Linked DNA regions of Homo sapiens: regions 1, 2 and 3 are each linked to region 4. The links come from fine-mapping of genetic effects on gene expression. A gene starts in region 4. Each other region holds a variant in brackets. All regions are shown on one strand. Distances are from middle to middle.

Region 1 (2,632 bases), 59 kb before region 4:
ATCTGACCACCTAAGTTAACACTTCTATGTAAAGACACCATAACACAAAATTAAAAGACAAATAACAAATGAAGAGAAAATGTGTAACACATATAACAAAAGATTAACCATTGTGACATCTAAAGAACTCCTATAAAGCAATAAGAAGAAAAGATAAACAACCCAGAAAGGGAAAAAATGGGCAAAGGTATGAACAGGCAATATCCAGAAGAAATGCAAAATTTTTGTCTGTACAAAAATTATGTTGTAGATTCATGTAACACCCAGTAAACTACATTCTAGGAGGTTAAAGAAGTCATGTTTTTCAGAACTAACAAATTACATATATTTACACAATATCAGAATGGGAAGTGCCTGTCTGAACTTGAATCTACAGACAAAAATTACCAAGAAAAATCATTAAAATTATCATAGACTTAAAAAAACCTTTGTACTAGCATTCGTCTAAATCGATGTGAAAAATTCTAAAATTTATCCAGGCAGGAGAAGAAACACAGTTAATAAAAACATGAAAACCTCATTATCAAACAAGGTGATTATAAATTAAAAAATAAATTTTTTAAATGTGAAACCATTAAATCTTGCTGATGCTTGGGGAAAATGCAAATCAAAACAATAACATGACAATTTTCATAAATCATATTGGCAAATATCTAAAAAATGAGAATGCCCAATTTGGCAAGGGCACAGGGCACCCAATATTCTCTTCCATTACTGGTGGAATTTTTAACAACATGGGAAAATAGTGGTAATATTTTCTTTTTTTTTGAGACAGTCTCACTCTGTCGCCCAGGCTGAAGTACAATGGCATGATCTCGGCTCACTGCAACTTCTGCCTCCCCAGTTCAAGCAATTCTCCTGCCTCAGCCTCCCAAGTAGCTGGGACCATCAGTGTGCATTACCATGCCCAGCTAATTTTTGTATTTTTAGTAGAGATGGGGTTTCACCACGTTGGCCAGGCTGTAGAGATGGGGTTTCACCACGTTGGCCAGGCTGGTCTCAAACTCCTGACCTCAGATGATCCACCTGCCTCAGCCTCCCAAAGTGCTGGGATTATGGCCACCGTGCCCTGCCGTGATATGTTAAGTGAGGAAAAGACAAATTAAACATACAGGAAGATCTAAACCATGTTCTAAAATAATAGTAACTATGTTTTATGAGTACCTTTATGCCAGACACCAGGACTATTTACATGTACTGGTACACTTCATATTCACAATAATCCTATGAGTTAA[C/G]GCTATTACTACCCTCATTTTATGGAGGAAGAAGCTGAGACAAGAGATCAAGTGACAGAGCCAAGATTTCAACTCAGGTTGACTCTAGAGTCCCAGATCTTAACCACTGGCACAATGTATAGAAATTAATCAAACTCTTTAAACACAGTGGAATTGAGTATACTGTCTACTTTAATTCCCGATTTTGTCATATATATTCTACTATTTTACTTCTCAAATACAACGAGTTTTTAAAAGGATCGGTAATCACAAGACAGCCAACAGTGTCCCTGAAATTCCCCTAGAGATGCTAACTACAAAATAAAACTTATGAATCATAATTCAATAGCTTTAAATATTGTAGTACAAGAACATTTTTCTAAATGAAATTTTATGTGCATCTATAACATAAGAAACAGATTAGGCTGGGTGTGGTGGCTTGCACCTGTAATCCCAGCACTTTGGGAGGCTGAGGAGGGCAGATTACGAGGTCAGGAGGTCGACACCAGCCTGGCCAACATGGTGAAACCCCATCTCTACTAAAAATACAAAAATTAGCAGGGTTTGGTGGCAGGTGCCTGTAATCCCAGCTACTCGGGAGCCTGAGGCAGGAGAATCACTTGAAGCTGGAAGGCAGAGGTTGCAGTGAGCTGAGATCCTGCCACTGCACTCCAGCCTGGGTTAAAGAGTGAAACTCCATCTCAAAAAACAAACAAAAAAAGAATAAAGCAGTATTTTATTCTATCAATGTATTTCAAAGCTCAAACGTGGCCGGGTGTGGTGGCTCATGCCGGTAATTCCAGCACTTTGGGAGGCCAAGGCGGGGGGTGGATCATTTGAGGTCAGGAGTTCGAGACGAGCCTGACCAACATGGTGAAACCCCATCTCTAGTAAAAACATACACACAAAAAAAAGCCAGGCATGGTGGCACGTGCCTGTAGTTCCAGCTACTCAGGAGGCTGAAGCAGGAAAATCACTTGAAGCTGGGAGGTGGAGGTTGCATTGAGCCGAGATGGCACCACTGCATGCATTCCAGCCTGGGTGACAGAGTGAGACTGCATCTCCAAAAAAAAAAAAAAAAAAAAAAAAAAGCTCAAATGTATAACATGTATAATGAGAACAATAAAATTCTTCTGACAAACACCAACTTTAAATTATGGATGATTGGGCAGTCTTATGTCAAATTTGTTTTGATGGCATGGTATCAAGAAAAACCGGATTCACAAAGATGAATAGATGATAAAGCATGTTTTACAAATGATAATGTTTTGTGTGTGTTTTTTAAATAGTACATTAACGCTATCTAAGAATTTAATTACACCTATCCAGAAGTTTTAAAAGTAAAACATTTCTAAATTAATTATGTAATAGTGTTAAGGAATGAATACTTGGTAGTCGTAAACATTTTGGTAAAAAAT
Region 2 (2,709 bases), 200 kb before region 4:
GTAAATATTGGTAAATATGGTAAACAATGGTAAATATCTGTATATCTAAACATAAAAAAGGTACAGTAAAAATATAATCATGGGACCACCACAACGTTGTTATTTAGTGCATGACTGTATTAGCTCAGACGTTAACCAAAATGAGTCTGCCTTCAAAGCTCCATTCACTCAATCTCTATACTACACCACTGCAGTTCTGGGAGGCTGTTCTCCCTCAGGTCTCCCAGCTCTTCTAATGTCTGCTGAAGTTGGAATTCTCTTCTGCATATGGACTACGAAACTGACATGCTCAGTTATCATTTCATACTAGCTAAAGGATCTTCTCCTTTGTGAAGCATCCCTCACCACTACTACTGTGATGGGTCAGGGCCTTTCATCTGTTTTTCCACAGCATCTATGCTTCTCTTCACTGTATCATTTATCAAATTGATGATTTCTGCGTCCTGTAATAAACAGTGAGTACCTTAAGAACAAATGTCATTTCTTATTTCTCTCTACCCTCAGCAACTGGCTTATTAGAATAAACAAATAGTTAATGCTGCTAAGTGAATGAATGACCTAATGTAATGGGAAAACATAACTTGGAGGATGGTTCAGTTGGCCAGCTTTATAACATGTTAAGATGCAATAATGGACAGGAAAGCATGAACAAAGTACAAAGCGCTGTTATCCACCATCATAAGTCTTTGTCTATATCCATCTTGTCTACATGGGCTCTCTAAGGGCAGAATCCTAGCTAGCTGATCTGTATCTAGCACAGAGCTTGTTTCTTAGTGTATGGAATGAAATCATCCACTAAAAATTATTAGTTGAATGTGGCTGGTGCCAAATACTCTTCCGGGCAGATCAAAAGAGATCTCAACCAAGATACAAATGATATAATATAATATTTTTCTTTCTTTCTTTTTTGTTTTGAGATGGAGTCTCACTCTGTTGCCCAGACTGGAGTACAGTGGCGTGATCTTGGCTCACTGCAAGCTCCGCCTCCCGAGTTCAAGCGATTCTTGTGCCTCAATCTCCCAAGTAGCTGGGATTACAGGCTACTATTTTTAGTAGAGACGGGGTTTCACTCAGTGGGGCTGGTCTTGAACTCCTAGCCTCAAGTGATCCTCCCGCCTCGGTCTCCCAAAGTGCTGGGATTACAGGCATGAGCCACTGCACCTGGCCGATATAATATTTTTCTCTTTTAAGAGCAAACAATAAAGAATTTAAACTCATTTGCTTTTAGCAAAAGCAGTACTGTTTGCTCTTAAAATACATGATTTTTTAATCTTTTAAGAGCAAACAATACTGCTTTTGCTAAAAGCAAATGAGTTTAAATTCTTTTCATATCATTCAGGCCATTTTGAGGAAGGTCTGGCAGAGCCTTTTGGTTGTTCCCCAATATCTTTCTCCCATTCTTCCTGAGTATTAGAGTCATCGCATGTAAACCAGGCATTAGTCACCCAGAATAAAGACTGCATGTCCTCGCTCCTTGAAGTGAGAGATGGCCATGTGACTTAAGTTCTAGTCAATGGAATGCAAGTAAAATTAGAGTGTACAACTTTTGGGAAGTGTCTTTAAACAAACCACAGGGTGGAGATGATACCTTTCTCT[C/T]CCCGTTTCCTTTTCCCCACAGGATGGAATACAGGGGGGACAGTTAGATTCTGAATTGTTAAGCAGAGCTGCTTGATGCAGAAGATGAAGACACAAGAAAGAATGAGCCTAGGCCGGGCACAGTGGCTCACGCCTGTAATTCCAGCACTTTGGGAGGCCGAGGCGGGAGGATCACTTGAGCTCAGGAGTTTGAGACTGGCCTGGCCACCATGGTGAAACCTCAACTCTACAAAAAAAAAAAAAAAGCCAAAATTAGCCGGGTGTGGTGGCATATGCCTGTGGTCCCAGCTACTTGGGAGGCTGAAGTGGGAGAATCACTTGAGCCCAGGAGGCTGCAGTTGCAGTGAGCTGATATTATGCCACTGCACTCCAGCCTGGGTGACAGGGTGAGACCCTGTCTCAAAAAAAAAAAAAAAAGAATGAGCAAGCCTAGATCCTTGATGGTCATCTCAGCCCTGTCCTGCCTATGAGGAAGAATTAAACTTTGCTCCTGTTTTAGCCACTGTTACTTTGCATTTTGGTCACTCATCCTAATATATAAAATTAAAAAACTAAAAACAGGTTCTTTGTAACTATTTCTGTTGTGTACTAATCATCAATCGAGTCATGAATATAAAGAGCTCTTTTAAAAAATATGTTCAAACCACAATCTAATCCAAATATAAACAGACCATAAAACCGTGTGTGAATGTAGACCAATAGAGTCAGAATATCAAGCCTAGTAACCAACACCAGAATTCAGAACAGTCAAGCTGAGTGTAACGGCACTAACTCTGTCAGATGAAGGGATGATTACCCTACCTGATGGTGAATTCCAGCAGCTCCTGGGCTCCCTGAGGGTCCAAGTGCTGAAGACTACACACTCCTTCAAGGCTCTGCTGCAGGAGCTGCTGCGAAGGATCCTCTTGAGGTATGATGCTGGGAGAAACAGCTGATGACACCAGTTTTCTACCTGGCAACTAAGCAAACACAGTGGGATTATAGAGTCATTAAGTTTGGTGGCTCAGCTTTTGGTAACACACACACAAACACATAAAAGCACATTAAAAATGTGAGCTAAACAAAACAAAGGGGAAAAAAGGCTAGGAGATTCTATAAATAACATTTCTCCCC
Region 3 (2,709 bases), 97 kb after region 4:
ACCACTTTTAGAGGTATTTGAACACAACTGGATATATGTGCTGAAATATGGATGTATTTATAACCTCATTAGAGACTAAATCATGGCAACACGTTACAGTTCAATATTTTTGTCTAAATTCTTGTTGAGCCACATCCATCTGTATATGTAATACTGAGTTGCCAACAGCTTTTTTATACTAAGCCAGAACTCATTTTACCCTGTGGTTTCGTTTGAAATGTATGAGCTGTACTATATAACATACAAATAAGTAATAAAAATTTCATTCAAAGACTATGGAAAGAAAAGTCATACAGGCACACTGTTAGTGAATCGGAATCTGGCACATGACACTGATTAACAGGTTGAGCAGATTCAACTAGATCTAAATCCCTGAAACAATATTGAAAGACAGAATTTTTTAATTAAAAATATCTTTGACAATTTAATAGACCTATGAAATTTGAAAAAAATCAATTTGTTTACTCATCATCAATCAATATTAGGTTAAACTAAAAATTTTTGAACACATCATAAAAAAATAAAATTAATTCACTATCCCCAGACTTACTGTGATTAACACAAGACTTCAGTGTATTTGAAAGCACCAAATTATTAATTAAAAATCTCCATTTTGAAAAGATCTTCAAATTTTTTTTTTCTTGAGATGGAGTCTCGCTCTGCCACCCAGGCTGGAGTGCAGCGGCACGATTAGGGCTCACTGCAACCTCTGCCTCCTGGGTTCAAGTGATTCTCCTGCCTCAGCCTCCTGAGTAGCTGAGATTACAGGTACACGCTGCCATGCCCAGCTAATTTTTTTTTTTTTTGTATTTTTAGTAGAGACGGGGTTTCACTATGTTGGCCAGGCTGGTCTTGAACTCCTGACCTCGTGATCCATCTGCCTCGGCCTCCCAAAGTGCTGGGATTACGAGCATGAGCCACCGTGCCCGGCCCGATCTTTCGTATATAACTACTAAGTAAAACCTAATACTAATATGTTTGATTTATGAAAGATTTGTGAATGCCCATCACTGTAGTTAAAAATCATAAAATTATATAAATAGACTGTCTAAATAATTTTGATTAAAATAGTTGGTATTTTATTTGAGTACCAGTATTTATATAGTATGACAAATTCAGGTTTATTTTATGAAATGGCAAAAGAGTATTTTACTTTTTTAGAAAGGTAAAAAGTATTTTTTTTTTTTTACTGTTGTGACATTTTATAAAATAAGCCTAAATTTGTGGAGACATTTTTTAAAAAGCCAATCTTTTCTAAAGGAAGATTTATACATAAGAAACTAGAGATATAAATGTCATATTATATACATCATTTCCTGAACCCTACAGTAATCTGTAAAGTTTGTTTGTATACACCAATCTTAGATTACCTAAAACATAATAAAGTTTTTTAGTGTTATATTTAACATACAAAAGTTCAAAATATATCCAGACGGACAGGACCTATGGCTGCCACTTTAAAAAAACAAATGATTGGCCGGACATGGAGGCTCATGCCCGTAATCCCGGCACATTGGGAGGCCGAGGCTGGTGCACCAC[T/C]TGAGGTCAGAAGTGTGAGACCAGCCTGGCAAACACGGTGAAACCCTGTTTCTTCTAAAAATACAAAAAGTAGCCAGGTGTAGTGGCACGCGCCTGTAGTTTCAGCTACTCTAGAGGCTGAGGCAGGAGAATTAATTGAACCCGGGAGACGGAGGTTGCAGTGAGCCCAGATTGCACCACTGCACTCCAGCCTGGGCGACAGAGCAAGGCTATGTCTCAAATAAATAAATAAATAAAAACAAATGTTTTAGCACGAAAAGAACTTAAAATAGTAAACTAAACTGTGACAGTTTAGATTAAAAACATGAGAAATGACTTTTTATTTGCACTTATGCTTAATTACCTTTATTCATTTTGGAACATGCAGGAAATGATGCGGTGGTAACTTGCTGGGTAGTGACTAGGACGGTATTTACTGTCCTAGGGATGGTGGGATCCAGTGGACCAGAATCGTCAGCACCTCACCATGTACGCTGCTGTCCTCTCTCTGTGACTGTTTTGTGAGAGAGGAAGGGAAGGGAAGGGGAAGGGAGGGGAGGGGGAGGGGAGGGGGAGGGGAGGGGTGGGGAGGGGGACGGGAGGGAGGAAACAGAGCAACTCACCATTGCACCTCCCATGCTGGCCACAACATCTGTTTATGGTGGGCCTACTGTGGGTTGCTTGGAGACTGCATGACATGTTCATACCGGCCCTCAAGATGCCATCAATAGGGGAGCCAGAGAAGTAAGCAAATAATTAGCATGCATGAGCTGCTATTCGCTGCTTTAAAGGCTGCTTCTCTTACCTGGTATCTATTCTTGTAAGGAAAATGATCCATCTCTAAAGATTTCTGAAAGAAAACAGAACATGATGGACTGTTCTGGCATGCAGCTTCTTTTAAGTTATGGAAAGATGTTCATGATAGATTGTGTTCAGTGAAAAAATGGTATGCAATGCGTGCTCAAAACTGTGAAAAATATACACTTTTGGAAAGGGTTATATCAAAATGTCACAGTGTTTGGTTGTCTCTGAGTGATGATGAGTCTTAATGATACAGAAAGTAGAAAAAAAATATTTGACAGACAGTGAGCATAAAAGAGTACTTGGCAGAGCTTCCCTTTAGCAAAAGGAAGACAAATTTTTTTTTTTCTTTACTAACAAAGATCAGCCTGAAAAATGGAGCTGCAAACA
Region 4 (2,709 bases):
TAAAAGCACCGCTAGGGGCACGAGTCAGCGGTGAAGAAATTGGCCCAGGAGCCTATGTCTATCTATATATCATAAAGAAAACTCGGACCCGCTCAACCCAACAGTTCCGAGTTTTTGAGTCATTCTATGAGCATGTTAACCAGAAATTGCCTGAGCCCCCTCCCTTGGCCAGTAATTTATTCGCCCAACTGGCTGAAAACATAGCCAGCAGCCTGCACGTTGCTTCATGTTATGTCTGTGGGGGAATGAACATGGGAGACCAATGGCCATGGGAAGCAAGGGAACTAATGCCCCAAGATAATTTCACACTAACCGCCTCTTCCCTCGAACCTGCACCATCAAGTCAGAGCATCTGGTTCTTAAAAACCTCCATTATTGGAAAATTCTGTATTGCTCGCTGGGGAAAGGCCTTTACAGACCCAGTAGGAGAGTTAACTTGCCTAGGACAACAATATTACAACGAGACACTAGGAAAGACTTTATGGAGGGGCAAAAGCAATAATTCTGAATCACCACACCCAAGCCCATTCTCTCGTTTCCCATCTTTAAACCATTCTTGGTACCAACTTGAAGCTCCAAATACCTGGCAGGCACCCTCTGGCCTCTACTGGATCTGTGGGCCACAAGCATATCGACAACTGCCAGCTAAATGGTCAGGGGCCTGTGTACTGGGGACAATTAGGCCGTCCTTCTTCCTAATGCCCCTAAAACAGGGAGAAGCCTTAGGATACCCCATCTATGATGAAACTAAAAGGAAAAGCAAAAGAGGCATAACTATAGGAGATTGGAAGGACAATGAATGGCCTCCTGAAAGAATAATTCAATATTATGGCCCAGCCACCTGGGCAGAAGATGGAATGTGGGGATACCGCACCCCAGTTTACATGCTTAACCGCATTATAAGATTGCAGGCAGTACTAGAAATCATTACCAATGAAACTGCAGGGGCCTTGAATCTGCTTGCCCAGCAAGCCACAAAAATGAGAAATGTCATTTATCAAAATAGACTGGCCTTAGACTACCTCCTAGCCCAGGAAGAGGGAGTATGCGGAAAGTTCAACCTTACTAACTGCTGCCTGGAACTTGATGACGAAGGAAAGGTCATCAAAGAAATAACTGCTAAAATCCAAAAGTTAGCTCACATCCCAGTTCAGACTTGGAAAGGATAGTCTCCAGATTCCCTTTTCAGAGGTTGGTTCTCATCCCTTGGAGGATTTAAAACCTTAGTACAAATAGTCCTAGCCATATTGGGAGTTTGCCTTATACTCCCTTGTCTCTTACCCCTCATTGTCAAAAATATCCAAACAGCCATAGAGGCTCTTGTGGACAGACGGACTACCACACGACTAATGGCCCTAACTAAGTATTAACCCCTGCCAAGAAAAGAGCTACTTCCTCTTGAAGTAAATGAAGATAGTGATGCTTTCTCTTAAACTTTACTTATAAAAAGCATCAAAGGGGGGAATGAAGCAGGAAATATAAAAGGAAAAACAAGTAAAGGGAAAACAAGTCCTTTCCTGACCAGTCTGACTCACTCCAAAGTCCTGCTGGAGCTATGATAATTATCTGCAAGGCCAGGCAGGGGCTCCGAAGGAGTGGGCTCCAGGAGCAGGGATGAGAAAAACAAGTTCTCCTTATCAGTTTCCCTGTTTGAAATTCTCTCCCCATAACATTATTCTTTGTTCTGCTCTCACAACTATTTTTGTAACTATTTCTGCAAGTCTGTAAAGATTTTGTAAGTTCTTGTTTTTCTTTCTGTAGCATGGCAAGGTCACAAGACATGTTTAAGTAAGGTAGGCTCATGTTGCAAATCCTGTTGTAAAACCTGTCACGGTATGATTAACTGCCTTTGTTCTGCTTCTGTAAGACTGCTTTCTCACCTCGCAGGTTTTGCGCCAAAAACCCGACTTGCCCCTGCCTGATGCATGTATAAAAGTCAAGCCCTGTCTTTGTTCAGGGCTCAGCCTTTGGATGTTAATCCGCTGGGCCAGTGGCCACCTAAATAAAACCTTCCTGTTGCACCCAGTGATCTCTCCGGCCTCCTGATTCCCACAACATATAAGCATTCCTTTTTCTCTGCAACCTAGCCCGCATCTGTCATTGACTTTTTAACAATAGGCATTCTGACTGGATGAGATGGTATCTCACTGTGGTTTTTCTCTGCATTTTTCTAATAATTAACAACGTGAATTTTGTTTTCATATGCTTGTCAGCCACATGTATGTCTTCTTTTGAAAAGTATCTGTTCATGTTTTTGCTTACTTTTTAATTAGGTTTTTGGTTTTCTTTTTGTTGTTGTTGTTGTTTTCTGAGATGGAGTCTTGCTGTGTCACCAGGATGGAGTGCAGTGGCATGATCTCGACTCACTGCAACCTCCACCTCCCAGGTTCAGATGATTCTTCTGCTTCAGTCTCCTGAGTAGCTGGGATCACAGGTGCGTGACACAAAACCCAGCTAATTTTTGTATTTTTATTAGAGATGGGGTTTCACCATGTTGGCCAGGATGGTCTGGATCTCTTGACCTCATGATCCATCTGCCTCAGCTTCCCAAAGTGCTGGGATTACAAGCATGAGCCACAGATCCTGGCTTATTCTTCTTCTTCTTTTTTTTTAAAATAAATTTGTTTAAGTTTCTTATGGATGCTAGATTTTAGACCTTTGTCAGAAGCATAGTTTGCAAATATTTTCTTCTAGTCTGTAGGTTGTCTG

Alleles and levels. Alleles are on the strand shown, and positions count from the first base shown. SD is a standard deviation of normalised expression in the study named. Not every link is listed here.
In carriers of allele T in region 2, the expression in lymphoblastoid cells of the gene that starts at base 1,345 in region 4 tends to be lower than with C alone (large effect, 1.1 SD a copy in CAP).

The links. PIP is the estimated chance that this variant, and not a neighbour inherited with it, causes the effect.
Region 1: its variant is fine-mapped to the expression of ZNF117 in sun-exposed skin (GTEx, PIP 0.98).
Region 2: its variant is fine-mapped to the expression of ZNF117 in lymphoblastoid cells (CAP, PIP 0.95).
Region 3: its variant is fine-mapped to the expression of ZNF117 in whole blood (INTERVAL, PIP 0.96).

The regions. Positions count from the first base shown.
Region 1 is chr7:65,048,889-65,051,520 of GRCh38, reverse strand. It overlaps the pseudogene CCT6P3. Among named protein-coding and RNA genes, the nearest start is that of SNORA22C, 16 kb to the left of the region's middle. The variant C/G (reference allele first, on the strand shown) is at 1,236.
Region 2 is chr7:65,188,826-65,191,534 of GRCh38, reverse strand. It overlaps the pseudogene INTS4P1. Among named protein-coding and RNA genes, the nearest start is that of SNORA15B-1, 120 kb to the right of the region's middle. The variant C/T (reference allele first, on the strand shown) is at 1,597.
Region 3 is chr7:64,893,071-64,895,779 of GRCh38, reverse strand. It overlaps a transcript of ZNF273 not described here. Among named protein-coding and RNA genes, the nearest start is that of ZNF273, 8.8 kb to the left of the region's middle. The variant T/C (reference allele first, on the strand shown) is at 1,540.
Region 4 is chr7:64,989,672-64,992,380 of GRCh38, reverse strand. It overlaps ZNF117 (zinc finger protein 117), which reads left to right and starts at 1,345. Exons shown (of 4, transcript NM_015852.5): 1 at 1,345-2,434. All of the region lies in intron 1 of ERV3-1-ZNF117 (ERV3-1-ZNF117 readthrough), which reads left to right. It overlaps ERV3-1 (endogenous retrovirus group 3 member 1, envelope), which reads left to right. Exons shown (of 2, transcript NM_001007253.4): 2 at 1-2,025. The coding sequence ends at 1,169.